Linked DNA regions of Homo sapiens. The protein of the gene in region 1 purifies or fractionates together with the protein of each later gene. This does not show direct contact. Each region holds a gene or a part of one and is shown in the gene's direction. Other genes may lie near its edges. The genes, in order: G6PD, PAK2, CAPN1 and HARS1.

Evidence for each region.
Region 2: the proteins of G6PD (region 1) and PAK2 fractionate together in Homo sapiens (co-fractionation; 2 studies listed by BioGRID). This does not show direct contact.
Region 3: the proteins of G6PD (region 1) and CAPN1 fractionate together in Homo sapiens (co-fractionation; 2 studies listed by BioGRID). This does not show direct contact.
Region 4: the proteins of G6PD (region 1) and HARS1 fractionate together in Homo sapiens (co-fractionation; 3 studies listed by BioGRID). This does not show direct contact.

What each region holds. Positions count from the first base shown.
Region 1 is NC_000023.11:154,530,866-154,536,851, reverse strand, and holds the end of G6PD (glucose-6-phosphate 1-dehydrogenase), read left to right. Parts: intron 1-673; coding exon 674-711; intron 712-806; coding exon 807-915; intron 916-1,466; coding exon 1,467-1,684; intron 1,685-2,355; coding exon 2,356-2,514; intron 2,515-2,691; coding exon 2,692-2,817; intron 2,818-3,182; coding exon 3,183-3,276; intron 3,277-3,723; coding exon 3,724-3,910; intron 3,911-4,049; coding exon 4,050-4,285; intron 4,286-4,389; coding exon 4,390-4,466; intron 4,467-4,571; coding exon 4,572-4,664; intron 4,665-4,761; coding exon 4,762-4,852; 3' UTR 4,853-5,461; downstream 5,462-5,986. UniProt on the Homo sapiens protein: Catalyzes the rate-limiting step of the oxidative pentose-phosphate pathway, which represents a route for the dissimilation of carbohydrates besides glycolysis.
Region 2 is NC_000003.12:196,826,853-196,833,173, forward strand, and holds the end of PAK2 (serine/threonine-protein kinase PAK 2), read left to right. Parts: intron 1-343; coding exon 344-481; intron 482-1,466; coding exon 1,467-1,553; 3' UTR 1,554-5,795; downstream 5,796-6,321. UniProt on the Homo sapiens protein: Serine/threonine protein kinase that plays a role in a variety of different signaling pathways including cytoskeleton regulation, cell motility, cell cycle progression, apoptosis or proliferation.
Region 3 is NC_000011.10:65,184,926-65,191,955, forward strand, and holds part of CAPN1 (calpain-1 catalytic subunit), read left to right. Parts: intron 1-991; coding exon 992-1,125; intron 1,126-1,244; coding exon 1,245-1,413; intron 1,414-2,289; coding exon 2,290-2,373; intron 2,374-3,029; coding exon 3,030-3,115; intron 3,116-3,488; coding exon 3,489-3,563; intron 3,564-3,660; coding exon 3,661-3,821; intron 3,822-7,030. UniProt on the Homo sapiens protein: Calcium-regulated non-lysosomal thiol-protease which catalyzes limited proteolysis of substrates involved in cytoskeletal remodeling and signal transduction. Proteolytically cleaves CTBP1 at 'Asn-375', 'Gly-387' and 'His-409'.
Region 4 is NC_000005.10:140,681,360-140,688,389, reverse strand, and holds part of HARS1 (histidine--tRNA ligase, cytoplasmic), read left to right. Parts: intron 1-5,170; coding exon 5,171-5,290; intron 5,291-7,030. UniProt on the Homo sapiens protein: Catalyzes the ATP-dependent ligation of histidine to the 3'-end of its cognate tRNA, via the formation of an aminoacyl-adenylate intermediate (His-AMP). Plays a role in axon guidance.

The sequences.
Region 1 (5,986 bases):
CTTTTTCTCACTTTTTTTTTGGAGATGAAGTCTCACTCTTGTCACCCAGGCTGGAGTGCAGTGGCACGATCTCGGCTCACTGCAACCTCTGCCTCCCGGATTCAAGTGATTCTCCTGCCTCAGCCTCCTGAGTAACTGGGATTACAGGTGCCTGCCACCACACCTGGCTAATTTTTGTATTTTTAATAGAGATGGGGTTTTGCCACATTGGCTGGTCTTGAACTCCTGACTTCAGGTGATCTGCCTGCCTCAGCCTCCCAAAGTGCTGGGATTACAGGTGTGAGCCACCGCATCTGGCCCTTTTTCTCACTTCTTAAGTGGAATGCTTAGCTCCTTATTTTTGAACCACTCTTTTTTGCTAATGTAAGCACTTGAGGTCACGTCTCACAAATGTGGCTACATGGTACTTCTGTCGTCCCTTGGTTCTACTGAATTGAATTTTCAGGTTTTCTCCTGGAACGCAGGAGATGCGTTTATGTCTTCTGGGTCAGGGATGGAGGGCTGGCACAGGCTTGAATCTCGGGGCTCTTCTGTCTGTATATCAGGCAAGACAGACATGCTTGTGGCCCAGTAGTGATCCTGAGTAGTGCCCAGATCACCAAGGGTGGAGGATGATGTATGTAGGTCGTGTCCCCAGCCACTTCTAACCACACACCTGTTCCCTCTGCCACAGGGTGACCTGGCCAAGAAGAAGATCTACCCCACCATCTGGTAAGTGTGTCCCACCACTGCCCCTGTGACCTCCCGCCAGGGACAGGCCTGGTCCTGCCCTGCCCGCACTGGTTACAGCTGTGCCCTGCCCTCAGGTGGCTGTTCCGGGATGGCCTTCTGCCCGAAAACACCTTCATCGTGGGCTATGCCCGTTCCCGCCTCACAGTGGCTGACATCCGCAAACAGAGTGAGCCCTTCTTCAAGGTGGGTGGTGTCAGGGCCTCCCCCAGCCTGGTTCTGCCCTCTCTACCAGCCCCCAGCATGGCCAGCTTCGGGGACCTCCCCCCATCCCATCCCGGGATGCTCTCCTCCTCTCCTGCCCCGCCCCGCCTGCTCTCGTACTTCCTTGAGACCCCCATTACCAGCCCCCGTGACCAGGACCCACAGGTCCCCTCCTGCTGTGCTCTGCTGCGTTTTCTCCGCCAATCATAGTTGGGTGTCATGATTTTGGAGAGAGAGCTTTCTCCAGTGTATTTCTCCCAGGTCAAAATATCCTGAAATCTGGCCTCTGTCCTAAGGCACAGGGGTCCCAGCCTGGGGCAGTGTCTGTGCTGCCTGCTTTGGCCTCCCTCCCTCTGGATGTGCAGAGCTGCTAAGATGGGGCTGAACCCAGTGTGGGACGGGGACACTGACTTCTGAGGGCACCCTCCCTGGACCTCCAGGGAAGACCCTCCACTCCCCTGGGGCAGAACACACACGGACTCAAAGAGAGGGGCTGACATCTGTCTGTGTGTCTGTCTGTCCGTGTCTCCCAGGCCACCCCAGAGGAGAAGCTCAAGCTGGAGGACTTCTTTGCCCGCAACTCCTATGTGGCTGGCCAGTACGATGATGCAGCCTCCTACCAGCGCCTCAACAGCCACATGAATGCCCTCCACCTGGGGTCACAGGCCAACCGCCTCTTCTACCTGGCCTTGCCCCCGACCGTCTACGAGGCCGTCACCAAGAACATTCACGAGTCCTGCATGAGCCAGATGTAAGGCTTGCCGTTGCCCTCCCTTCCCGCCTGCCAGGCTGGCCCAGGCAGTGCTCCCACCACTCTATGAGCGTGTCCGGGGCCGGGGATCTGGGCAGCATCCATGGTGCCGGGGCCATCCCCAGCGGGACCACAAGGTGGCAGCGTTGCTCCACGAAACACCGCCTTTCCGCTCTGCTTCCCCAAAGGCCCGGCCAGGCCGCAGGGTGGCAGCCTTGCTCTGCGAATGCAGCATGGCCCGCGCTGGGTGGTTTCCCAACCCAGCCAGAGGCTCTTGTCCTCTGGCTGGTTTTGAATGCGGGGGTAGTAAAGCAAAGGTCCTCTTCTCATTTTCAAAACCAATGAGGAAGCCATGGCTTGGATGCCTCCTCCCCCTGCTCCCCTACAGGCCTTCAGGCCACTCAGACCCACCGGGGACCCAGCATGAGGCAGGAGGGGAACGGGCCCCCGGCAGCATGCCAGCAATGCCACCCTGGCACCCAGGGTGGGAAGGCTTCCCGGAAGGTGTTGAGCCAGAGGGTCATCTGGGAACACAAGGCACGGGAGGTGGCCACGGGGGCGAGGAGGTTCTGGCCTCTACTCCCCTGGGAGGGCGTCTGAATGATGCAGCTCTGATCCTCACTCCCCGAAGAGGGGTTCAAGGGGGTAACGCAGCTCCGGGCTCCCAGCAGAGGCTGGAACCGCATCATCGTGGAGAAGCCCTTCGGGAGGGACCTGCAGAGCTCTGACCGGCTGTCCAACCACATCTCCTCCCTGTTCCGTGAGGACCAGATCTACCGCATCGACCACTACCTGGGCAAGGAGATGGTGCAGAACCTCATGGTGCTGAGGTGGGGCCAAGCCTGGGCCGGGGGACCAGGGTGGGGGTGGTACTCAGGAGCCTCACCTGGCCCACTGCCTCCCCGAGGACGAATTCCTCCAGAACTCAGACAAGGGTGACCCCTCACATGTGGCCCCTGCACCACAGAGGCCCAAGGTCAGTTCCTCCACCTTGCCCCTCCCTGCAGATTTGCCAACAGGATCTTCGGCCCCATCTGGAACCGGGACAACATCGCCTGCGTTATCCTCACCTTCAAGGAGCCCTTTGGCACTGAGGGTCGCGGGGGCTATTTCGATGAATTTGGGATCATCCGGTGAGAGCTCTTCCTCTCTCCTGGGAGGCTGGCACAGGGTGGCAGAGCCAGTCACCCTGCAGGGCTACTCTTCCCTATCTTGGGGGAGCTCCTCCTCACCCTGCAGTTCAAAACCTAAGTGTCTGAGCTATCAGACCGGGCTGGAAAGGGCTGGACCCCTACACAGCCAAGCACCCCACGGTTTTATGATTCAGTGATAGCATCACCATGTCCTTCCTTGATTTAAGGGGACCTGGAAGACAAGGGGGATCAGGAAGTGAGTCTTGCAGCTTGTCACTAGGAAGCCTTGTTTGGGGTCCCCATGCCCTTGAACCAGGTGAACAGGGCGGGGAGCTAAGGCGAGCTCTGGCCTCTTCCGTCCCCAGGGACGTGATGCAGAACCACCTACTGCAGATGCTGTGTCTGGTGGCCATGGAGAAGCCCGCCTCCACCAACTCAGATGACGTCCGTGATGAGAAGGTAGGGGGTGCACCCCAGTCCCCAGGAGCATGCCCTGTCGCAGGCCCATCTGTGACGAGGCACTGAGCTGGGGTGTGCATGCAGAGCAGGTGTCCTCAACCCCGGAGAAGTCACCACCTCTGAGCACAGCGTGGCCTCCCGGAGGTGACCTGGACTGGCAGTCATGAAGCCCAAGTTGTCATGTCCCAGGCCTGACAGTCACTATGTGACCAGGGAAGGCCATTGCCTCTCTGGGCCTCAGCTTGTTCATCAGAATAGACTCGAGATGGACCAGGGTGGTCCTGGAGGGTCCTCAGGGAGGGGCCCTGAGCTGGGCCTCTGGCAGGGTGAGCAGAGCCAAGCAGGGGCCTCCTCCTGCCCTGAGGGCTGCACATCTGTGGCCACAGTCATCCCTGCACCCCAACTCAACACCCAAGGAGCCCATTCTCTCCCTTGGCTTTCTCTCAGGTCAAGGTGTTGAAATGCATCTCAGAGGTGCAGGCCAACAATGTGGTCCTGGGCCAGTACGTGGGGAACCCCGATGGAGAGGGCGAGGCCACCAAAGGGTACCTGGACGACCCCACGGTGCCCCGCGGGTCCACCACCGCCACTTTTGCAGCCGTCGTCCTCTATGTGGAGAATGAGAGGTGGGATGGTAGGTGATGCCTTCGAGGCCCAGCAAGGCAGAACTGGGCATGCCCTGTGTGCGGGCACTGGAGCTCCCACTGAGACACTCACGCACTGGTCCACACCCTGAGAGAGCTGGTGCTGAGGCTGCCCTTTCCGCCACGTAGGGGTGCCCTTCATCCTGCGCTGCGGCAAGGCCCTGAACGAGCGCAAGGCCGAGGTGAGGCTGCAGTTCCATGATGTGGCCGGCGACATCTTCCACCAGCAGTGCAAGCGCAACGAGCTGGTGATCCGCGTGCAGCCCAACGAGGCCGTGTACACCAAGATGATGACCAAGAAGCCGGGCATGTTCTTCAACCCCGAGGAGTCGGAGCTGGACCTGACCTACGGCAACAGATACAAGGTGCCCTACAGAGAAGGAGCAGTGTGGAGGGTGGGCGGCCTGGGCCCGGGGGACTCCACATGGTGGCAGGCAGTGGCATCAGCAAGACACTCTCTCCCTCACAGAACGTGAAGCTCCCTGACGCCTATGAGCGCCTCATCCTGGACGTCTTCTGCGGGAGCCAGATGCACTTCGTGCGCAGGTGAGGCCCAGCTGCCGGCCCCTGCATACCTGTGGGCTATGGGGTGGCCTTTGCCCTCCCTCCCTGTGTGCCACCGGCCTCCCAAGCCATACCATGTCCCCTCAGCGACGAGCTCCGTGAGGCCTGGCGTATTTTCACCCCACTGCTGCACCAGATTGAGCTGGAGAAGCCCAAGCCCATCCCCTATATTTATGGCAGGTGAGGAAAGGGTGGGGGCTGGGGACAGAGCCCAGCGGGCAGGGGCGGGGTGAGGGTGGAGCTACCTCATGCCTCTCCTCCACCCGTCACTCTCCAGCCGAGGCCCCACGGAGGCAGACGAGCTGATGAAGAGAGTGGGTTTCCAGTATGAGGGCACCTACAAGTGGGTGAACCCCCACAAGCTCTGAGCCCTGGGCACCCACCTCCACCCCCGCCACGGCCACCCTCCTTCCCGCCGCCCGACCCCGAGTCGGGAGGACTCCGGGACCATTGACCTCAGCTGCACATTCCTGGCCCCGGGCTCTGGCCACCCTGGCCCGCCCCTCGCTGCTGCTACTACCCGAGCCCAGCTACATTCCTCAGCTGCCAAGCACTCGAGACCATCCTGGCCCCTCCAGACCCTGCCTGAGCCCAGGAGCTGAGTCACCTCCTCCACTCACTCCAGCCCAACAGAAGGAAGGAGGAGGGCGCCCATTCGTCTGTCCCAGAGCTTATTGGCCACTGGGTCTCACTCCTGAGTGGGGCCAGGGTGGGAGGGAGGGACGAGGGGGAGGAAAGGGGCGAGCACCCACGTGAGAGAATCTGCCTGTGGCCTTGCCCGCCAGCCTCAGTGCCACTTGACATTCCTTGTCACCAGCAACATCTCGAGCCCCCTGGATGTCCCCTGTCCCACCAACTCTGCACTCCATGGCCACCCCGTGCCACCCGTAGGCAGCCTCTCTGCTATAAGAAAAGCAGACGCAGCAGCTGGGACCCCTCCCAACCTCAATGCCCTGCCATTAAATCCGCAAACAGCCCCTCCTGTCCCCTTGTCATTTGCTTCCCTGAGGACCCACTTCCTTGTCCCACTCCCCAAGTCACCCGGGTGCTTCCTCTGTGGCCACTGAGGAGCCTCCTCACTTCTGGTTCTGACCCCATGTCCAGCCATGACCATGTTTGGTGTCAGAGACACCTCCTGAGTCCTCCTCCGCTCCACGCATATTGTCATTGTGAGACCAGCTTGAGGTGCAAGGATGTGGGGTCACCTTCCGCTCTTACTGTCCATGTCCCTGCCCCACCCAAGATGACTTCCAGCAACACTGCCAGTCCACAGAAGTATTTAGGAAGGAGAGGGGATGGGTTTTGTGACTGATGTCAGAGGCCAAGGGAGAGGGGACAGTCCACAGTGATGCACAGCCAGGCCCAGCCACCCCTTCCAGGCAGAAGGGCCACACACTGGGCAGCTCTCAACATAGGCTGATTCTCCCAGTTCTGGAGGCCAGAGTCCAAGATCCAGCACTCCCGCCAGAGGCCCAAGGGGAGGGTCCTTCCTGCCCTCTCCA
Region 2 (6,321 bases), on another chromosome or scaffold:
AGAGGTTGCAGTGAGCCAAGATTGCACCACTGCACTCCAGCCTGGGTGACAGAGCAAGATTCCGTCTCAACAAAAAAAAACAAAACAAAAGCAATATGTATTGCATTTATAACCGAAGAAAAACCAAAGGTGAATCTGATTTCAGAAAAGTAACTTAAGGAAATGTAACATCTAAAAATAAGAGGAAAGTATCAAATCTAAATTTAAATGGGATAATGATAACCCCAGTTTAGTATTTATGGTGATTTTCTTTAAAGAAGAAAGAATCCCTTAGACTTTATGGAGTGCTCTGTGACCGTGTTGAGCTATCTTAAGTGGATCAAAGATGTTCTTCTATTTTTAGGCCTTGTACCTAATAGCAACTAATGGAACCCCAGAACTTCAGAATCCAGAGAAACTTTCCCCAATATTTCGGGATTTCTTAAATCGATGTTTGGAAATGGATGTGGAAAAAAGGGGTTCAGCCAAAGAATTATTACAGGTAAATTTAAAAATGATTTCATTTGGGGGAATAGTTGACTTTTTTGGTAACCGACAGAAAGCTTTCCTAGGGCTAATAAGTAGATTTCACTACTCATTGATCACCAGCGGTATGGCAGCTGCTGCAATTTAGGGTTTCATCCTACCATGCTGAGCAAACTACCGCAAGGACAGAAAACCAAACACTGCATGTTCCCACTCATAGGTGGGAATTGAACAATGAGAACACCTGGACACAGGAAGGGGAACATCACACACCGGGGCCTGTTGTGGGGTGGGGGGAGTGGGGAGGGATAGCATTAGGAGATATACCTAATGTAAATGATGAGTTAACAGGTGCAGCACAGCAACATGGCACATGTGTACATATGTAACAAACCTGCACGTTGTGCGCATGTACCCTAGAACTTAAAGTATTAAAAAAAAAAGTGAGGGTTTCATCTGCTGTGAATAAAATTCTGACAAAACCGTAATGTGCAGTTTGTGCATCGTATCAATCCTCAGACCTGTTTACAGTTTGTGCATCGTATCAATCCTCAGACCTGTTTACAGTTTGTGCATCGTATCAATCCTCAGACCTGTTTACAGTTTGTGCATCGTATCAATCCTCAGACCTGTTTACAGTTTGTGCATCGTATCAATCCTCAGACCTGTTTACAGTTTGTGCATCGTATCAATCCTCAGACCTGTTTACAGTTTGTGCATCGTATCAATCCTCAGACCTGTTTACAGTTTGTGCATCGTATCACTCCTCAGACCTGTTTATTGCTGTTGTGTGTATATTTGTCAAACTAAAATGATTCTGCTTTCATTCAACTCTGAAAGTAATGCGTTGATTATGTTAGTCTTATGAAGGTATTAATATGTGTTTAGTTTATTAAATTATGATCGACAAGTAGTCTTTGGGGCTTAATTGAACAAAATTATTTTGTTTCTAACCTGATGAATGGCACTTATACATTTATTTTTCCCCTTCTTTCTGGCAGCATCCTTTCCTGAAACTGGCCAAACCGTTATCTAGCTTGACACCACTGATCATGGCAGCTAAAGAAGCAATGAAGAGTAACCGTTAACATCACTGCTGTGGCCTCATACTCTTTTTTCCATTTTCTACAAGAAGCCTTTTAGTATATGAAAATTATTACTCTTTTTGGGGTTTAAAGAAATGGTCTGCATAACCTGAATGAAAGAAGCAAATGACTATTCTCTGAAGACAACCAAGAGAAAATTGCAAAAAGACAAGTATGACTTTTATATGAACCCCTTCTTTAGGGTCCAGAAGGAATTGTGGACTGAATCACTAGCCTTAGGTCTTTCAGCAAACAGCCTATCAGGGCCATTTATCATGTGTGAGATTTGCATTTTACTTTGCTGACTTTGTTGTAATAGATCCCATTCATTGTCCCCTTTGGGGTATTTCCAATACTTGAATGGCAGATTGGAGTTTTTCAGAGTATGTGTTTCATCTGCTAGTCTTTCTCTCCTTCATAGCTTTTCTTTTCCTGGACTTGCTCCTTTTGAGTTGCTTTTGCGTTTCTCATGCCTAGGCAAGTGTAATAGAAATTATGTAGCTCCTTATGTTGGCAAAGGAGCTCTATATAGTTTCACTTTGTATAAAAGTTAGGACCAGCTGTTGTTACATGTAATATTTTAGTTCAGAACTTGACCTGAAGGAAGGGAAGAAAAGTATGTGATTTTTACCTTTTTTAACAAATGTGAAAAAGTCAGTTTTAGAAATTTCGTGGTAGTAAGTTCGGCATTTGTTACATGTATAGAGAGAAGACTAATAATCTCTATTTATAACTAAATCATTGAGATAGAAAAAGATTCCCATTGACTGTAGACTTCTTCCCATTTTGTCTTCCCTTCTGCCTGTTTCCCCTTCAGGCTTGGCTCTAGGAACCAAAGTGATTTGTTGTTGTTCCAACCTGGGCTTTGTGACTTTGGTTAGTGCCACTACCTTCTTCCCTCCTTTCCCCCTTCAATTTGGAAATAAATTTCTGTATATGTTGCAATTTTAGGTTTAGGTTTGTTCTTTTTCTTTTTCATTAATCCTCTCTCACCTCACAGATACCCCCTCCCATGGCAAATAATATAATAACCAGTGAATTTTCAGGAATTTAAAAATTAGCTTTTTTCCACTTAAAGGAGAAAAATATTTGGGACTAGCAGCAGAGGCAGTAAGAGATGTGAACCTTGGTGAGCTCTGATACAGTGAGAAGAGATTATACTCATGAAAGAGAATGTTAGTGTTACAGAGAAGCAGCCGATAGCAAATCGACTGTAGAGACTTGGCGGCGGTGGCATTGCCCCAGGTCGTCAGCAGTGTGGTATTATCTATGAGAACTTGAGCGACAGAGTATTTCTTGATGAATTTATAGATCATTTGAGATGTTGAGTTACTTTAGTTTAGTTTTGTTTTGTTTTTTCAAATAAGTAGAGACTATTGTAAAAAACGAGAAAGGAAAATGAAATGTGCGTGTTGATAGCAATAATTTGTTTCTTTTAAAGATTCTAAAAGGTCTGAGACCTGTAGCATTAATTATTTGAGTGCCCTCCCTTCTCCCCTCCCCTCCCTTTTCTCTTCTCTTTTTTCCTCTCCTCTTCTTCTCCTTTATTCATTGTTTTGCTTTTGGAGTGGGTGTTGTTCAAGTATCTGTGGTTTGGTTCTGGCATTTTGTTCCCACCATCCCCTTCCCCCATTAACTTCCCCCCTGCTTGCCATCCTGCAGTAGTATAAATCATGAATAAAAAATAATTTTGCTGTTGTAGTATACATTGGAGAAACTGGCAGGTTTTATTTCCATTATTTTATTTCCACTATATCTATGATAAGATGCAATTATAAGGAGAGAAGTGACTGTTTTTTATTGATAAGGCAAGATTTTCAGAAAAATGAGTAAAATAATTAATGAAACATATTTAGAGCACTTAATGGTCTCTGTTTTCAATATAATTCTTGATTTCATTTTTCTCTGGAATATATTGGCCTTCTACAGCTATTACTGAATTATAGAAACTGGTTTATTTCTGGCAGAAAGCTGCAGTGCCACCTGAGTTCCAAATTTTACCATTCTTTGTAAACAGTTGGATGGATTATGATAAAGAAGATGCTACCAATGAAATAGAAAACCAACGAGATGAGAAGACTGTGATCCTCATGTACTCAGAGGCACTTCCCTCCTAAGTCAAAGACCATCCTCACTGACTATGTGCCAACGCCTCGTTTCAGGCTTGTGACTCAACAAAGGGCTTTTCCATTGATAGAAGCAGTTTGGGATTTGTAGTTGCGACTTCTTCGATAGTTACCTGCACGTCCATTGCTGGCAACTGACTTGTCATTAAAACCTGGCTCTTTGGTTAAGGGAGCTACGCTGTGGTTTATTCTTAAGTTACGTGGATAAACTAACCTCTAACAGAAATATACTTTGGTTAATTTTGAAATGTGTCATTTTTAAACAATCTTAAAAGTAATACAGAATTGTGATTTATTAATTTTAAAACATTCAGAACTTGTTGAAAGAAAAATTATATCTGAATCAAGATTCATGTTTTTTATTTTTATTTTTTTTGATACAGAGTCTCACTCTGTCACTCAGGCTGGAGTGCAGTGACATGATCTCAGCTCACTGCAACCTCCGCTTCCTGGGTTCAAGCAATTCTCATGCCTCAGCCTCCTGAGTAGCTGAGACCACAGGCACCCGCCACCACACCCAGCTATTTTTTTGTATTTTTAGTAGAGACAGAGTCTCACCACATTGCCCAGGCTGGTCTCCAACTCCTGAGCTCAGGCAGTCTGCCCACCTTGGCCTCCCAAAGTGCTGCAGTTACAGGCGTGAGCCACTGCACCTGGCCTCATGTTTTTTAAATAATTGCCTTTTATATTTACCCTTTTTGTCATCACTTTAGAATGAAAATTCCCATTTAAATCTGAAAGTTACCTTAATAGTCCTCTTGTGTTATTAGGACAGTATTATTATAGTACTTATTTATTTTATTTTAGATTTAAAGTTATCTTCTCTTTTTCTTTTTTCTTCTGCTGCTTTTAGGGACAATTAAAACTGGGAAACTATGAAACATGGAACATTTTATCCTACCTGAAAGTAAACGAGTAATTGTGAAGCATAAGACACTGAGGCTAATACAACTCTGTCTTCATGTGTTGACTGCCTGGCACATAGTATTCATTCTCTTCCCTTTAACATAGAAGTGTCCAGCTGCGTACAGTCTAGTAACCAGCAACTGTAAACGAACCTGTGCCTCTAACAAGCGATTCTAAACCACCTATGAGTATTTCTTTTAGGGCTCACTTAAATACATGTTTGTATATACTGTATTCTAGCCAGAATAATTTTAGATCTGATCAGGTAGTAGCTAAAATTAGAAAAAAACAAAATAGATGCTTAAAGAATTTGCATCCATTTTTGAGTCTAAATCTTTTAAAATATACTGAGATCCACATCTAGTGAAATGTCAGTGTCAAAATATTATAGATTATAGCTAAAATCCAGATTAATACTCATTTGGGGTTTTTTATAGTGGAACTTCATAGTAATACAAAAAGCAGATTGTCTTCCTGTCTCCGCTGCTCCCACAGTAGGTATTGAAACTGGTAAAATCAGTTTTTTGATAGTGTGTGTATATAAGAAAAAATAGATACACACATTCTTTTTTCTCAGTCAACACATTGATTGAACACTCTGGCAAAGATGCTGTGGTGGATGAGGTTGGAGTTCGAAAGAAGAAGCAAGCGCTGGCCTGGCCTTGAAAGAACCGAAGTCTTTCCCATTCACTTCTCTAGAAAGCTGCCAAGACAGAGGCAGAAAGAAATGGATGATAGTTCTGTCAAGCACACTTCTGTTCTCTTAGAACTTAGAAGTGTTTCTAAGAGAACAGAAGTAATAAGAGAAACAGTTACGTGTGGAATTCAACATCTTTGGTTGGAACGCATTGGCTTTTTTTTTCTTGTTTTGATAGAAATGGAATTAAGCAAAAGTAGTTTTTGTCTTTTCTGTTGTCTTCAAATTTTATGCCTTTTATTTTTAATTTAATCCCGTTCAATTATTTAATTGTTATACATTGACATTAACTGCTGTATTTTGACTTTGTTCAATAATTTTGTTCTTTCAGGGCTAGAAATAAACTTTTTAAAAAAAGTGTGCATTTTTCCCTTTCCTAAACTTTTATTCTTTCTTTTGATCAGCGTAAAAGAATATTTTAATGTCTTTTGATAGCATAAAAGAATATTTAAATGTCTTAATAGGTTTTCAAAGAACATTTAGTATTTTTAGTGATAAATGTTTTAAACCTTTTAATGGTGTTGTGCCATCATTTTGAATTTATTACAAAGCTCCAAAGTAGGAAGGTTTCTAGAAATGTGTGGGCAGTAAACATGAAGTTTTCCTTTTTTTTTTTTTTTTTTTTTTTTTTGAGACAAGTCTCACTCTTTCTTCCAGGCTGGAGTGCAGTGGCGCCATCTCAGCTCACTGCAACCTCTGCCTCCCAGGTTCAAGTGATTCTCCTGCTTCGGCCTCCTGAGTAGTTAGGGGAAGTTTTCCCTTTCTAAATCAAGTTCAGAATAATTTTCTTTATCAATGTTTCTCTATCAGACCCAGGGAAACAGTTCTGATTTGAACACACACCTTGCTGGAGTAATAAAAACCTGATCAGAATTTCTGTGTTAAGTGAACCAAGAAACCTTTTAGAGTGCAATACGTCGTAAGGCATCACTTCATTATGTGAATTAATTTGGAATCTTAGGTACCCTAACATAGGGAACAGCCACAATAATGGTTTACTATCAAAAAGCATAAAATAAGGCCAGGCGTGGTGGCTCACACC
Region 3 (7,030 bases), on another chromosome or scaffold:
ATAACTTTTCCAGGATCATGTAGCTAGTATGTCTCGAGCATACATGTACATATCAAGTATACACATGTCTATATGTGGTATGCATGTATTAGTATACAGCAAATATGCAGGTATCTAGTATACATTGTACAGGCAAAGGAAAGCATCCCCTTAGCCCTCTGAAGGTTCACTGAAAAATCAACTCACAAAAGGAGGTTAGTAGGAGAAATGGCATACAAATTGATTAGCCTGCAGCGTGGGGTCGGGAACCACAGAGTGTTCACCCCAGCCCCACAATGGGTACAGAAGCCTATATACCATCCTGAGGTTACAGGAAGAATGGGGGCTCGAACATGGCCAAAACCAGTTTCTGGTGGTAAATCAGGTTATAGTGGCAAGACAGACTATGGAAGGGGGAGAAAAGGGGGCCTGGGTAGCAAAGGCAGTCTTGTTATGTAGATGAAACCTCACAGGTAGCAGCCCTCAGAGGGAATAGATGGTAATTGTTTCGTTCAGACCTTTAAAGGGTGTCAGGCTCTCAGTCTGACAAGGGAAGGCCTTAGAGAAAGCCTGGCTACATCAATGCAGATTTTCTCTACAGATGCAAATCTCCCCCACAAAAGACAGTATTACAGGGCTACTTCTGTTTGCAGACCCTCTGAACAGCTATCTCAAAATATGTTGAAGAAGTATATTTCAGGGTGAAATACTTTGATTTCCTTCAATACCTAGATACATGTATCTAGTATATCTGTAGCATACATGTATCTAGAGGTACACATGCATCTAGTATGTATCTAGTATATGTGATTTAGTATACATGCATCTACTATGTATCTGGTATACCTGACCTAGTATACATCTAGTATGTATCTAATTTACATGATTTAGTCTATGTGTATCTAGTATGTATCTGGGATGTAGAATCCTGCATCTAGGAAGGTAGGGGTAAGGATGGAGCTCAGGTCCGGGGGATTCCAAAGCAGGTACTCACCGTGCCCCTCCCCCACAGCTGTGGCAATTTGGGGAGTGGGTGGACGTGGTCGTGGATGACCTGCTGCCCATCAAGGACGGGAAGCTAGTGTTCGTGCACTCTGCCGAAGGCAACGAGTTCTGGAGCGCCCTGCTTGAGAAGGCCTATGCCAAGTGAGTAGCGGCTGAGGGGGCAACTCCAGCTTCCAGCTCCCCCTAGGGGTGGGGGCTCATGACTGTCTTCTCAGAGGGTCCTGCTTGATGCCAGAGTGCTGACCTGGAGCTGCCCACAGGGTAAATGGCAGCTACGAGGCCCTGTCAGGGGGCAGCACCTCAGAGGGCTTTGAGGACTTCACAGGCGGGGTTACCGAGTGGTACGAGTTGCGCAAGGCTCCCAGTGACCTCTACCAGATCATCCTCAAGGCGCTGGAGCGGGGCTCCCTGCTGGGCTGCTCCATAGACGTGAGTGTGCCCGGCCCCGATGCTTTGGTACCCTGGAACCCTGGTATCCTGACCTGTCACATTTTCTAAAATCCCCACCCAGGCTCCGCTCCAGACCCTGTCCTGCACTTAAGCTTCATCTCTGGATGCATACCCTGCCTCATCCATCACTTCCACCCCCCATGCCTGGTGTCGCTCCTGTCCTCACCTACCCACTCCTCCCCCAAAACTTCACACCTCAGCTCTTTCCTGTGCTTGTTTTCCCGTCTACCATGCTGTTTCCCTCATTCCTGTCATCTCAATCCATGCCATCCTCTGTCCAGTTCACCAGCCTCAGATTTCATCTCCTGGTCTCAGTTCCCACCCATCCCTAGCCTCAATCCCACACTCACTCCATTCCCACCCTTCCCTGCTCCTCTGTTCCCACACTCAACTCCGCTCCCCAGTCCTCAACGCCAGACTTGACCCCAGTATCACTGCCATCCGCAGCTCTAACCCCAGCTCCCATTCCCATTTCTAACTGACTCTTCTGTCCTCACGTCCTTCTCCGTGAGGCCCACTGAGGGCTGTGTGGCTCTGGTGGGCTGTGCACGGCTGTGTGTGTGCACATGCATGTTCGCACAGGTTCTGGTCAGCCCTGGCCAGTAGCAGTGTCAGCGGAGTGCCTGGGCTCCCCTGTCCCAGTGGCAGCATTGGTGGGGTACCCAGGCTACCCCTCTCCAAAAGAGCAGCATCTATATGTGGGGGTGTCTATAGGTGGGATCGGGGTCCCTGCTTGCTTCTCCTAGCAACTGTTGTATGTGCAAGTGGGAACGTCCAAGACCCTGAGTGCTGGGGGCTCATCTGATAGGGCGGGGGGACCTAGCCACTGACCACAGTGTGTGCCTCTTTCTGCAGATCTCCAGCGTTCTAGACATGGAGGCCATCACTTTCAAGAAGTTGGTGAAGGGCCATGCCTACTCTGTGACCGGGGCCAAGCAGGTACTGCCCTGGGTGGGGCCTTCCCTGAAGGGCGGTTCCTGCCCCCTGGCCTGTCCTTGCCTCTCTGGCACCTGACCAGGGCTGTGGAAGGTGCTGGCTCCTCCTTTCCCCTCCTGCAGCACCTTATCTCTCTTCTGGGGACACCCATCTGAGATGCCTATCATGTCCTGCCCTGACTGACTGTAGTTCATGTGTGCAGCTGCCTGCCTGGGCTGTGAATTCCAAGAGGACAGGCTTCATCTGGGTGCTGAGCAGGGCTTGGAGAGGATGAGGGTATGGGAGGCGGAGTGTTAAAGTGCGTGCATGGGCCAGGTGCACTGGCTCACACCTGTAATCCCAACACTTTGGGAGGCTGAGGTGGGCAGATCACCTGAGGTCAGGAGTTCGAGACCAGCCTGGCCAACATGGTGAAACTCTGTCTCTACTAAAAATACAAAAACTACCTGGGTGTGGTGGCAGGTGCCTGTAATTCCAGCTATTTGGGAGGCTGAGGCAAGAGAATTGAATTGCTTGAACCCAGGAGGCGGAGGTTGCAGTGAGCTGAGATCGCACCACTGCACTCCAGCCTGGGTGACAGAGCAAGACTCTGTCTCAAAAAAGAAAAAAAAAAAAAGTGCCTGCTGGAAGCTAGCACTGACAGGAGCTCTGGCAAATAGGTGAACTACCGAGGCCAGGTGGTGAGCCTGATCCGGATGCGGAACCCCTGGGGCGAGGTGGAGTGGACGGGAGCCTGGAGCGACAGGTGAGGGGCAGTGGGCACTGTCTGGAGTGCCTTGGGGAAACTGTTAGGTGCCCCGACATTTCTGCTCGGGACTCTACCAGGCCAGGCTGGACTCAGGATTGAGCAGAGGGGCCCATCTTCGCGCGACTGGGTCTGGGGGACTGCTCTGACAAAGCTCAGGCCGTGCGGGCCCCTGTGCCCAGCCGTCGGGTGTGTGCAGGGCATCAGACTGGCCCTGATGAGACCACCCCCTAGAAGCGGAACCTTGGCGCTTGACCTTGAGGAGGCCACCTGGGCTGGGCCGGGGGAAGACAGGCCAGGGTAGACAGGCCCCAGGGACAGAGGCCAGGCAGGTCAGTGCCCACCAGCCCTGGCAGAGCCCTGCTCCTCACAGCTCCTCAGAGTGGAACAACGTGGACCCATATGAACGGGACCAGCTCCGGGTCAAGATGGAGGACGGGGAGTTCTGGTGAGCGCCCCCTCCCCTTCTACCCCACCTCTCCACCCCTACACATCAGCTCTGTGCCCTGACGGGCTGTGCCTCACCTGTGTACCTCCCACCTCAGGATGTCATTCCGAGACTTCATGCGGGAGTTCACCCGCCTGGAGATCTGCAACCTCACACCCGACGCCCTCAAGAGCCGGACCATCCGCAAATGGAACACCACACTCTACGAAGGCACCTGGCGGCGGGGGAGCACCGCGGGGGGCTGCCGAAACTACCCAGGTGCACAGGGGCGGGCTCTGGGTCTTGCTGCTTCCTGGCTTAGGGGCTCCAGAAGGCACGTCATCTTACTGAGCCTCCGTTTCCTCACTTGCAAGATATAGGCTGATCTCTTGAATTTGCTTTGAGGAGTAAAATATTAAATGTCCTAGTAAATTTTAAAGAGGCATGCTTGACTCACCGTCTTGGGGCCTGAGCCCAGGGTGCTCATGAGGGGCAAAGATCTTGTGGCCATCCAGCCACCTGCCTGTCACTCCTTTCCTGGGCCCTTCCCTCCTGCCTTCGCTTTTTTTTTTCTGAGACAGAGTCTCACTCTGTTGCCCAGGCTGGAGTGCAGTAGCGTGGCCTTGGCTGACTACAACCTCCATCTCCCGGATTCAAGCAATTCTCCTGCCTTAGCCTCCCGAGTAGCTGGGATTACAGGCACCTACCATACCCAGCTAATTTTTGTATTTTTAGTAGAGGCAGGGTTTCTCCATGTTGGCCAGGCTGGTCTCGATCTCCTGACCTCAGGTGATCCGACCACCTTGGCCTCCCAAAGTGCTGGGATTACAGGCGTGCGCCACTGTGCCAGGTCCCTTCTTGCCTTCTCTTGCCACCTTTCCCTGGGCTTCTAGATCCATGTGGCTGATGTGGGCCACAGCCTGGCCTCTCAGTTCCTTGTCACTCTCACTGCAGCACGCTTTTTCTCTACCTTAGCTCAGCCCCCACCATGAGGGCACCAGAGCTGCCTTGTCTTGCAAACACCCGCTCTCTGACCTCCACCTTCGACTCTTTCCACTCCCTTAGTCTTCAACCCTTCGACCAAGCCAGTCCGTTGAACCCATCACTTGCGTACCATCCTGCCTCTCCCATCTTGCCTTCTCTCCTTACCTAGGTTAGAGCTATCATTTTAATCTTGTTCCTACAAACACTTTCAGTTCCCTGGCCCCTGTCTCCCATCATCTGGCACAAAACCCATCTCCACTGGCTTGGGAACCATTGAGTGTGGCAGGAGAGAAATCACATAACCGATGCCATATTTTCCCTGTAAATTCTTAGCCACAAATCTCAAATGAGCATTTTCCATAATCCCCAGCAATTCCACTACTGGTTAGTAACATTTCCACTCTCACCTCGATATCTCCCCACTGTTACTCTCACCTTCGGGCCTGGCCTTGCACTTCACTGAAAAGATAGACTTCATCCTGCAGGACACCTTGTGTTCCCACCTCCAAATCCCCCAGCCTTCTGCACCTGTGCCTGTGTCCTCATCGCCTCCCCACCTGCGACAGTGGCAGAACAGTCCCTGTTCATGGGGACCCCCACGTCTGCTCCAGATCCCATTCTCCCTCACCTCTGAAAGCATTTGCTCCTTCATCTGTCACCTCTCTCTCCAGTGTCATTACGGAGAGTCCTCTGTCTTAACACAAAGCAACCCTCTCGACCCCACTTCCCTGTTCATTTCTCCGCCCTCCTTCAAAGCACAATTTATCAGGAATTACCATACTCCCTATTTCCTTTCTCACTTCTGCTTCATTGCTTAACCCTTCCCAGTCCAGCTTCATCCCTACCATGCTGCTAAAACCACCCTCTCAAAGGTCACTTAAGCTTTGGCCTTGCCAGATCCGCCGCTGCTCTGTCCTCCTGTGCTGCATCCTCAGCACGGCTCCCTGCCCTCTGTTTTGAAGCATTCTTCTCCCTTGTAGGGATCCAATTTCAGTCTTTCCCCAAATAGATAACCACCGTTCCCTGTACCATTTATTGAGAAATACATCATCTCGTCTCTCCCCAGCAGCACTAGCGCCCTCAAGTAGTCCTGAGGTATGTGTTGGTCTGTTTCTGGACTCACCATTCTGTCCCTGGGTCTATCCCTCTGCCGATAACACATTGAATCCATTACTACAGATGTGTAAGTCCTGCTGTTGGACAGGGCAAATTCCTTCTTCAAGAGTCTCTTAGCTGTTTTTTTTGTTGTTGGTTTTTTTTGTTTTTGTTTTTGTTTTTTGAGACGGAGTCTTGCTCTGTTGCCCAGGCTGGAGTGCAGTGGCGCGATCTCGGCTCACTGCAACCTCTGCCTCCTGGGTTCAGATGATGCTTCTGCCTCAACCTCCTGAGTAGCTGTGATTACAGGTGCCCGCCACCACATCCAGCTAATGTTTGTATTTTTAGTAGAGACGGGGTTTCACCATGTTGGCCAGGCTGGTTTCAAACTCAAGTGATCCACCTGGCTTAGCCTCCCAAATTGCTGGGATTACAGGCGTGAGCCACTGCATCTGTCTTAGCTGTTCTTGACCTCTGTTTTTCCAAATGAATTTTAGAATCAGTTTACCAAGTCTTTTGAAAAACCATTTTGAGATTTTAATTTGGAATTACATGAAACCTATAGACCAATTTGGGGAGACTTGACATTTTTATAATTTTAAGTCTTATCCAAGGATATGGTGTATCTCTTCATTTATTTTGGCCTTTAATGTCTTTCAATAGAATGTTGTATTTTTTATCATAAAGAATTTATACATCTCTTGAGATTTAATGCTAGGTACACTATAATTTTGTTTCTATTATAAATAGTATGTTCTTTAAAATTACATCTCCCAAGTGATCTTGTTGCTCATACGATAACATGCATTTGACCTTTTAGATGTAGTTTTTATATCCAGCAAATTTTTTAAAACTAATTAATCTTACTGATTCATCTGTATGTATTTTTTGGCACGATCTTAGCTCACTACAACTTCTGCTTCCCTGGTTCAAGTGATTCTCGTGCCTCAGCTTCCCGAGTAGCTGGGATTACAGGCGTGCGGCACCACACCTGGCTAATTTTTGTATTTTTATTAGAGACAGGGTTTCACCATGTTGGCCAGGGTGGTCTCGAACTCCTGACCTCAGGTGATCTGCCTGCCTTGGCCTCCCAAAGTGCTGGGATTACAGTGAGCCACTGCGTCCAGCCCTTTTTGGTTTTCTAATTAGGAATATAGCATCTGCAAATAATGACAGATTGTTTCTTCTTTTCTAATTCTTACAACTTTTGTTACTTTTTCTTGTCTAATATGCTGCCTAGAACTGTAGAGCTTCCTGCTCTTGTTCCTCCCTTTTTTTTATTCTTATTTTTAGGAGCAACCCTATTAACTAAGCCTCACTCTTAAAGGGGAAGTTTTCACCACTAAGTACCTTTCTAATCTAGGTTTTTTGTGGATACCTTTTATCAGACTAATGAAGTTTAATATTGT
Region 4 (7,030 bases), on another chromosome or scaffold:
ATGTCAGGGCTTAAATGAAATAAGAATAGCAGATGTTAATGGTTGTTGAAGCTGGGTAATGGATAAATGGTGACCTGTAATACTATTCTCTATATTGTGTCTTTGAAAATTTCCATACTATAGTGTTAAGATTATGCTAGAGAGTTAATATCCATTTTAGTATTAACAATAGAAAACTCAGTATTGTGGGGACAAGACTCTTTCAAGGGATCTTCATGGTCAAAACTATTTCTATAATAATTCTTTTGTTTTGTTTTGTTTTGTTTTGTTTTGTTTTGTTTTGTTTGAGACGGAGTCTTGCTCTGTCGCCCAGGCTGGAGTGCAGTGGCGTGATCTCAGCTCACTGCAACCTCCGCCTCCCGGGTTCAAGCGATTGTCCTGCCTCAGCCTTCCGAGTAGCTGGGACTACAGGGATGTGCCACCGCACCTAGCTAATTTTTTGTATTTTTAGTACAGATGGGGTTTCACCGTGTTGGCTGCGCTGGTCTTGAATTCCTGGCCTCAAGTGATCCTCCCACCTCGGCCTCCTAAAGTGCTGGGATTACAGGCGTGAGCCACTGCGCCTGGCCCTTCTATAATAATTCTAAGACATTATCTGCCTTTTTCGTTGTGTTAACATTTGCACTGAAGGCACAAAAGCGCTGGTGAGTAGAACTGCTGGTGCCTTAGCATACATTAAGACAGTGACACTAAACTGTACTAATAGCCAGTGTGTTCTTCACTGCCATGCACTCACAGTAAGTAAATAAATAAATTAATTAATTAATTAATTTAAAAAATTCAGTTTTACTTAACTATGTCATTGATAAAATGGTAAAACTTTGTTTGTTTTGGGGTTTCTTTGGAGACAGAATCTCACTCTGTTGCCCAGGCTGGAGTTCAGTGTCACGATCTTGGCTCACTGCAGCCTCCACTTCCCGGGTTCAAGCAATTATTGTGCCTCAGCCTCCTGAGTATCTGGGATTACAGGCGGGTACCACCACATGCAGCTAATTTTTTGTATTTTTACAGAAATACAAAAAACATACAAGAAACCTACAACATGTTTCACCATGTTGCCCAGGCTGGTTTGGAACTCTTGAGCTCAGGCAATCTGCCCACCTTGGCCTCCCAAAGTGCTAGGCTGAGCCACCATGCCTGGCCAAAAACTTACTGATTTTATTGAATCTTGACCCTTGAGGACCCTATTTTTAAATATTTGCTATGACAAAATGGGAAGTACACATAAAGCACTTCTGCACGCCAAGGTAGGGAAAATGCTTATGCCATTGTTCAAGTTGCAAGCTGATCTAGCTACTTTTTTCATAGAACATCTTGTTTTATTTGAATTAACAACTGAAAGATAAATTATGGTTTTTCAAACTTAAATATTTGGCAGACATTTTTACAACAATAAACGAAGTGAGCCTCGTCACCTCAAGGAAAACATCTGACAGTACTTGTAGGCAGTGAAAAAATTCAAGTATTCAGGTGAAAGTTAGAATTTTAGAAAACTTAGTCAGGGCATGGTGGCTCAAGCCTATAATCCCAGCACTTTGGGAGACCAAGGCGGGCGGATCACCTGAGGTCGGGAGTTTGAGACCAACCTGACCAACATAGAGAAACCCCATCTCTACTAAAAATTAGCTGGGCGTGGTGGCGCATGCTTGTAATGCCAGCTACTAGGGAAGCTAAGGCACAAGAATCGCTTGAACCTGGGAAGCAGAGGTTGTGGTGAGCCGAGATCGCGTCATTGCACTCCAGCCTAGGCAACGAGTGAAACTACATCTCAAAAAAAAAAAAAAAAGAATTTTAGAAAACTTGCATCTTCCATCATAAGCTTGACAGCTTCCCAATAATTAAAGAGTTTTCTACTGGGTGTGGTGGCTTACGCCTGTAATCCCAGCACTTTGAGAGACCAAGGTGGGCGGATCACCTGAGGTCGGGAGTTTGAGACCAGCCTAGCCAACATGGTGAAACGCTGTCTCTACTAAAAATAAAAATTTAGCCAGGTATGGTAGCTCACGTCTGTAATCCCAGCTCCTTGGGAGGCTGAGGCAGGAGAATCGTTTGAACCTGGGAGGTGGAGGTTGCAGTGAGCCGAGAACACGCCACTGTACTCCAGCCTGGGTGACAGAGTGAGACTCCATCTCAAAAACAAACAAACAAATAAAAACAGGCCAGGCAAGGTGGCTCATGCCTGTAATCCAAGCACTTTGGGAAGCAGAGGCAAGTGGATCATGAGGTCAGGAGATCAAGACCATCCTGGCTAACATGGTGGAACCCCGTCTCTACTAAAAATACAAAAAATTTGCCGGGCGTGGTGGCACGCGCCTGTATGTAGTCCCAGTTACTCAGGAGGCTGAGGCAGGAGAATTATTTGAACCTGGGAGGTGGAGGTTGCAGTGAGCCGAGATCACACCACTGCACTTCAGCCTGGGTGACAGAGCGAGACTCCATCTCAAAAAAAAAAAAAAAAGACTTTCTTGATGAGATCTGAAGTGATGTAAATAAATAAGGCTTCCTGATATTGTATAATGAAATGTATCAACATTTGAAAGACCTGTTATGAAATCATGCACAGGCAAAGGATCCATTCATTCAAAGTACAAAATACAGTAGTGGATTTTTTTTTGTAGGAAAATATACGTAACATAAAATTTACCATTTTAATGATTTTTTTTTTTTTTTGAGACAGAGTCTCACTCTGTCACCAGGCTGGAGTGCAGTGGCATGACCTTGGCTCACTGCAGCCTCCACCTCCTGGGTTCAAGCAATTCTCCTGCCTCAGCGTCCCAGGTAGCTGGGACTACAGGTGTGTGCCACCACGCCCAGCTAATTTTTGTATTTTTTAGTAGAGATGGGGTTTCACCATGTTGGCCAGGATAGTCTCGATCTCTTGACCCCGTGATCCACCTGCCTTGGCCTCCCAAAGTGCTGGGATTACAGGTGTGAGCCACCACGCCCAGCCCATTTTAATGATTTTTAAGTGTACAGTTCAGTAACATGAAGTACATTCATACTCATAACCATCACCATTATCCACCTCCAGAATTTTTTCATCATCCCCAATTGAAACTCTGTACCCATTAAACAATAACTCCCCACTTCACCCTCCCTCCAGCCCCTGGTAACTGCTATCCTACTTTCTACTTTCTGTCTCTATGGATTTGACTATTCTAGGTACTAGATAAGTGAGAGACTAATTGTTCTTTTTTTTTTTTTTTAAGTTCATTGATCTAGCTTTCAAATTCCACATTGCAACCAATCTTTAAGAAACAACCACTTGTTGGATTCTGATGTAGTACCAAAGAAAAATATCCACAGTTAGCTGAAAAGTTTGTTAAAATACTCTTCCTTTTACAACTACATATCTGTGTAAGGTTAGATTTTCGTTATATACTTCAACCAGCACGACATATCACGACAGATTGAATGCAAAAATCACATATGAGAATCCTGCTGTCTTCTATTCAGTCAGACATTAAAGATTTGCAAAGATGTAAATCAGTGCCACTCTTCTCACTAAATTGTTTTGGAAAACAGTTACCTTTTTCTAAAATATTATTTGCGTTAACATATAATAGATATATTATTTGTGTTAACATATGTTATTTGTTAAATGAATAAATATTTTAAAATTTTTGCCGTTCTAATTCTAATACAGTAAATATTGATAGGTATAATCCACTTTGGGGTCTTGAATACATAGTAAGAGTGTAAAGAGGTCCTGAAACCAAAGACTTTGGAGTAGGGTATAAAAGCCCAGATTGGAAGCTCTGACCTGGAAGGACAACACAGTTCTAGTCCTGACTGCCACGAACATGCTGAATGGCCTTAAGAAATGACTTAACTTCTCAACATCCTGTACTTCATCTGTAAAATTTATCTGCCTAGCCTATGTCATAGAGTTGTTACCAGAAACAAATTAGAGAACAAACAGTTGTAACTAAGATTTAAAAGAAAAGTTATATTGGGAGAGAAACGTTGCTTATAAAATTTGGAATTCAATTAGTTGAGCCAGTTTGAGTTGGTTATATTGCCTATAATCATGTAGGTATTTTTTTGTTGTTATTATTTTTGTTTGTTTGGTTGGGTTTGTTTTTGTTTTTGTTTTTGTTTTGACAGAGTCTTGCTCTGTCTCCCAGGCTGGAGTGCAGTGGCACTATCTCAGCTCACTGCAAGCTCCACCTGCCGGGTTCACGCCATTCTCCTGCCTCAGCCTCCCAAGTAGCTGGGACTACAGGCACCTGCCACCACGCCCGGCTAATTTTTTTGTATTTTTAGTAGAGACGGGGTTTCACAGTGTTCGCCAGGATGGTCTTGATCTCCTGACTTCGTGATCCGCCCGCCTCGGCCTCCCCAAGTGCTGGCATTACAGGTGTGAGCCACCGCGCCCGGCTGGTTGGTTTGTTTTGTTTTTGAGACAGAGTCTCGCTCTGTCTCTCAGTCTGGAGTGCAGTGGTGCAATCTTGGCTCACTGCAACCTCCGCCTCCCAGGTTCAAGTGATTCTCCCTGCCTTGAGCCTCCTGAGTAGCTGGGATTACAGGCACCTGCCACCACCATTTGTTTGTTTTATTGAGACAGTCTCACTCTGTTGCCCAGGCTGGAGTGCAGTGGCACAATCTCGGCTCACTGCAACCTCCACCTCCCAGGTTCAAGGATCCTCATGCATCAGCCTCCCAAGTAGCTGGGACTACAAGGGGCGTGTCGTCGCACCCGGCTAATTTCTGTATTTTTAGTAGAGACGAGGTTTCACCATGTTGGCCAGGCTGGTCTCGAACCCCTGACCTCAGGCAATCCATCTGCCTTGGCCTCCCGAAGTGCTGGGATTACAGGCGTGAGCCACTGTGCCTGGCCTCAGGTAGGTGTTTGTTATTAGGCCAGGAAATGTTCTGTTATCTGAGAGAGAGTGTTTAGAAAAATGGCTTAAAGAAAAGAGTTCTAAGAATTTTAGAAAATAGACCCAAACTTAAAAGGGAATGGAGTTTGGAAGGCAGATAGCAAATGGGTGTGGGAATTAATAGGGAATTATTTGTACTTGTTTTAAAACTCAGTGGCCTGTAGGAAAATCTGTTTAGAGCAGGATTTGCTTTTTCATTATTGAGGTCATCCTTTTATATTTCCAAAACATATTGTTCTTGGTTTTCAAACCTCATTTCTGGTTCTCTGGCTGATTTCAACTCCAAGGGCACAAGAGACTATAGTCCCCGGCAGATGGCAGTTCGCGAGAAGGTGTTTGACGTAATCATCCGTTGCTTCAAGCGCCACGGTGCAGAAGTCATTGATACACCTGTATTTGAACTAAAGGTGAGGAATGGGCAAGAAGAAACTACATGGTAGATGAGTGGGCATTTGAATAACAAAGAAGATGACAACAAGAGAGTGAGGGTCCAAAGGGCCCACTCCTGTTGTGGACACAGACCAGTCTTTGCTCCAATAAGAAGGGGGACAAGAATGGCTTGGAGGGAGAGGCCCTGTCTTTTATTATCTTGGTTGTGGCCAGCAGATTCCAAAAGAGAGCCATTCTTTGGAATGGTAATTGTTCTGGGTCCTCTCTACATTGTATTGCGTGGCATCTGTACTTGGAATGTTTTCTAGATTCATGCAAACCATACGTACATAAATATGCAACCACTCTCCTATTGATGGACTCTGAAGTTGTTAGTAGTTCTTTGCTATTAAAAACTAGATTGCAACTGGGCACATCTGTAGTTCCTGCTTCTCAGGAGGCTGAAGCAGAAAGATCACTGGATCCGAGGAGTTCAAGGCTGTAGTGTGCTATGATGGTGCCTGTGAATAGCCACCATACTCCAGTCTGGGCAATGTAGCAAGCCCCTGTCTCTAAAACAAACCAGCCAACCCAGATTGCATTACTACCTGCTTCAAACCCAGTGATTCCCACTGCACTTATAGTACAACCCAAACTCTTTACTCAGGTTTACAGAGCCCTAGGTGATCTGGCCACTGCCTCTCCTACCTCATCTCATGCTATTTTTCCTCTTGCCCACTATGCTACTCTGGTCTTCTTCCTACTCTTGGAACATAGTCAGTGTGTTTGTACCTCCACACCTTTGTTCTTGCTCTTCCCCTTTCCTGAACTCCCTTTCCTTAGCTCTTTGCATGATTTATTTCAGATTATACTAGAGACTGCAGATTTTAATTCCTTTTTAAAAAAAAAAAATACAAATAGAGACAGAGGTCTTGCTATGTTGCCCAGGCTGCTTGCGAACGAACCCCTGGCCTCAAGTGGTCCTCCTTCCTCAGCCTCCCAAAGTGCTGACATTACAGGCATGAGCCACCACGTCCAGCCAGCCAGATTTTAATTTCAGAGCTCAGCTAAAATGCCACTCCTCAAGTAATCTTCTCCAACTACCTTCTTTAAAGTAGCTGTTCTCTCTCTTATCACAATGAGCTAGTTTATTGCCTTTAGGCTATAAAACTGTCTGAAATTATCTGTTGTTTCCTTCATCAATGTCTCTTTTTATTGATATTTAATTGTACATATTTATGAGACTGTTTTTACCTACTGTATTAGTTTGCTAGGGCTACCATAACAAAGTACCATAGACTAGGTAGTCTAAACAACAGAAATTTATTTTCTCACAGTTCCAGAGGCTGGAAGTTGACATAACATGTTGGCAGGCCTAGTTCTTTCTGAAGGCCATAAGGAAGGATCTGTTCCAGGCCTCTCTCCATGGCTTGTAGATGGCCATCATCTCCCTTTGTTTTTTTTTTAATTGAGACAGAGTCTCGCTCTGTTGCCTGGGCTGGAGTGCAGTGGCACCATCTCATCTCACTGCAACTCCACCTCCCAGGTTCAAGCGATTCTCCTGCCTCAGTCTCCTAAGTAGCTGGGATTACAACACGTGTGCCACCACACCTGGCTAATTTTTCTATTTTTAGTAGAGACGAGGTTTCACCATGTTGACCAGGTTGGTGGTCTTGAATTCCTGGCCTCCAGTGATTCGCCCACCCCAGCCTCCCAAAGTGCTGGAATTACAGGCATGAGCCACCGCGCCCAGCCTCCCTTTGTCTTTACATCGTCTT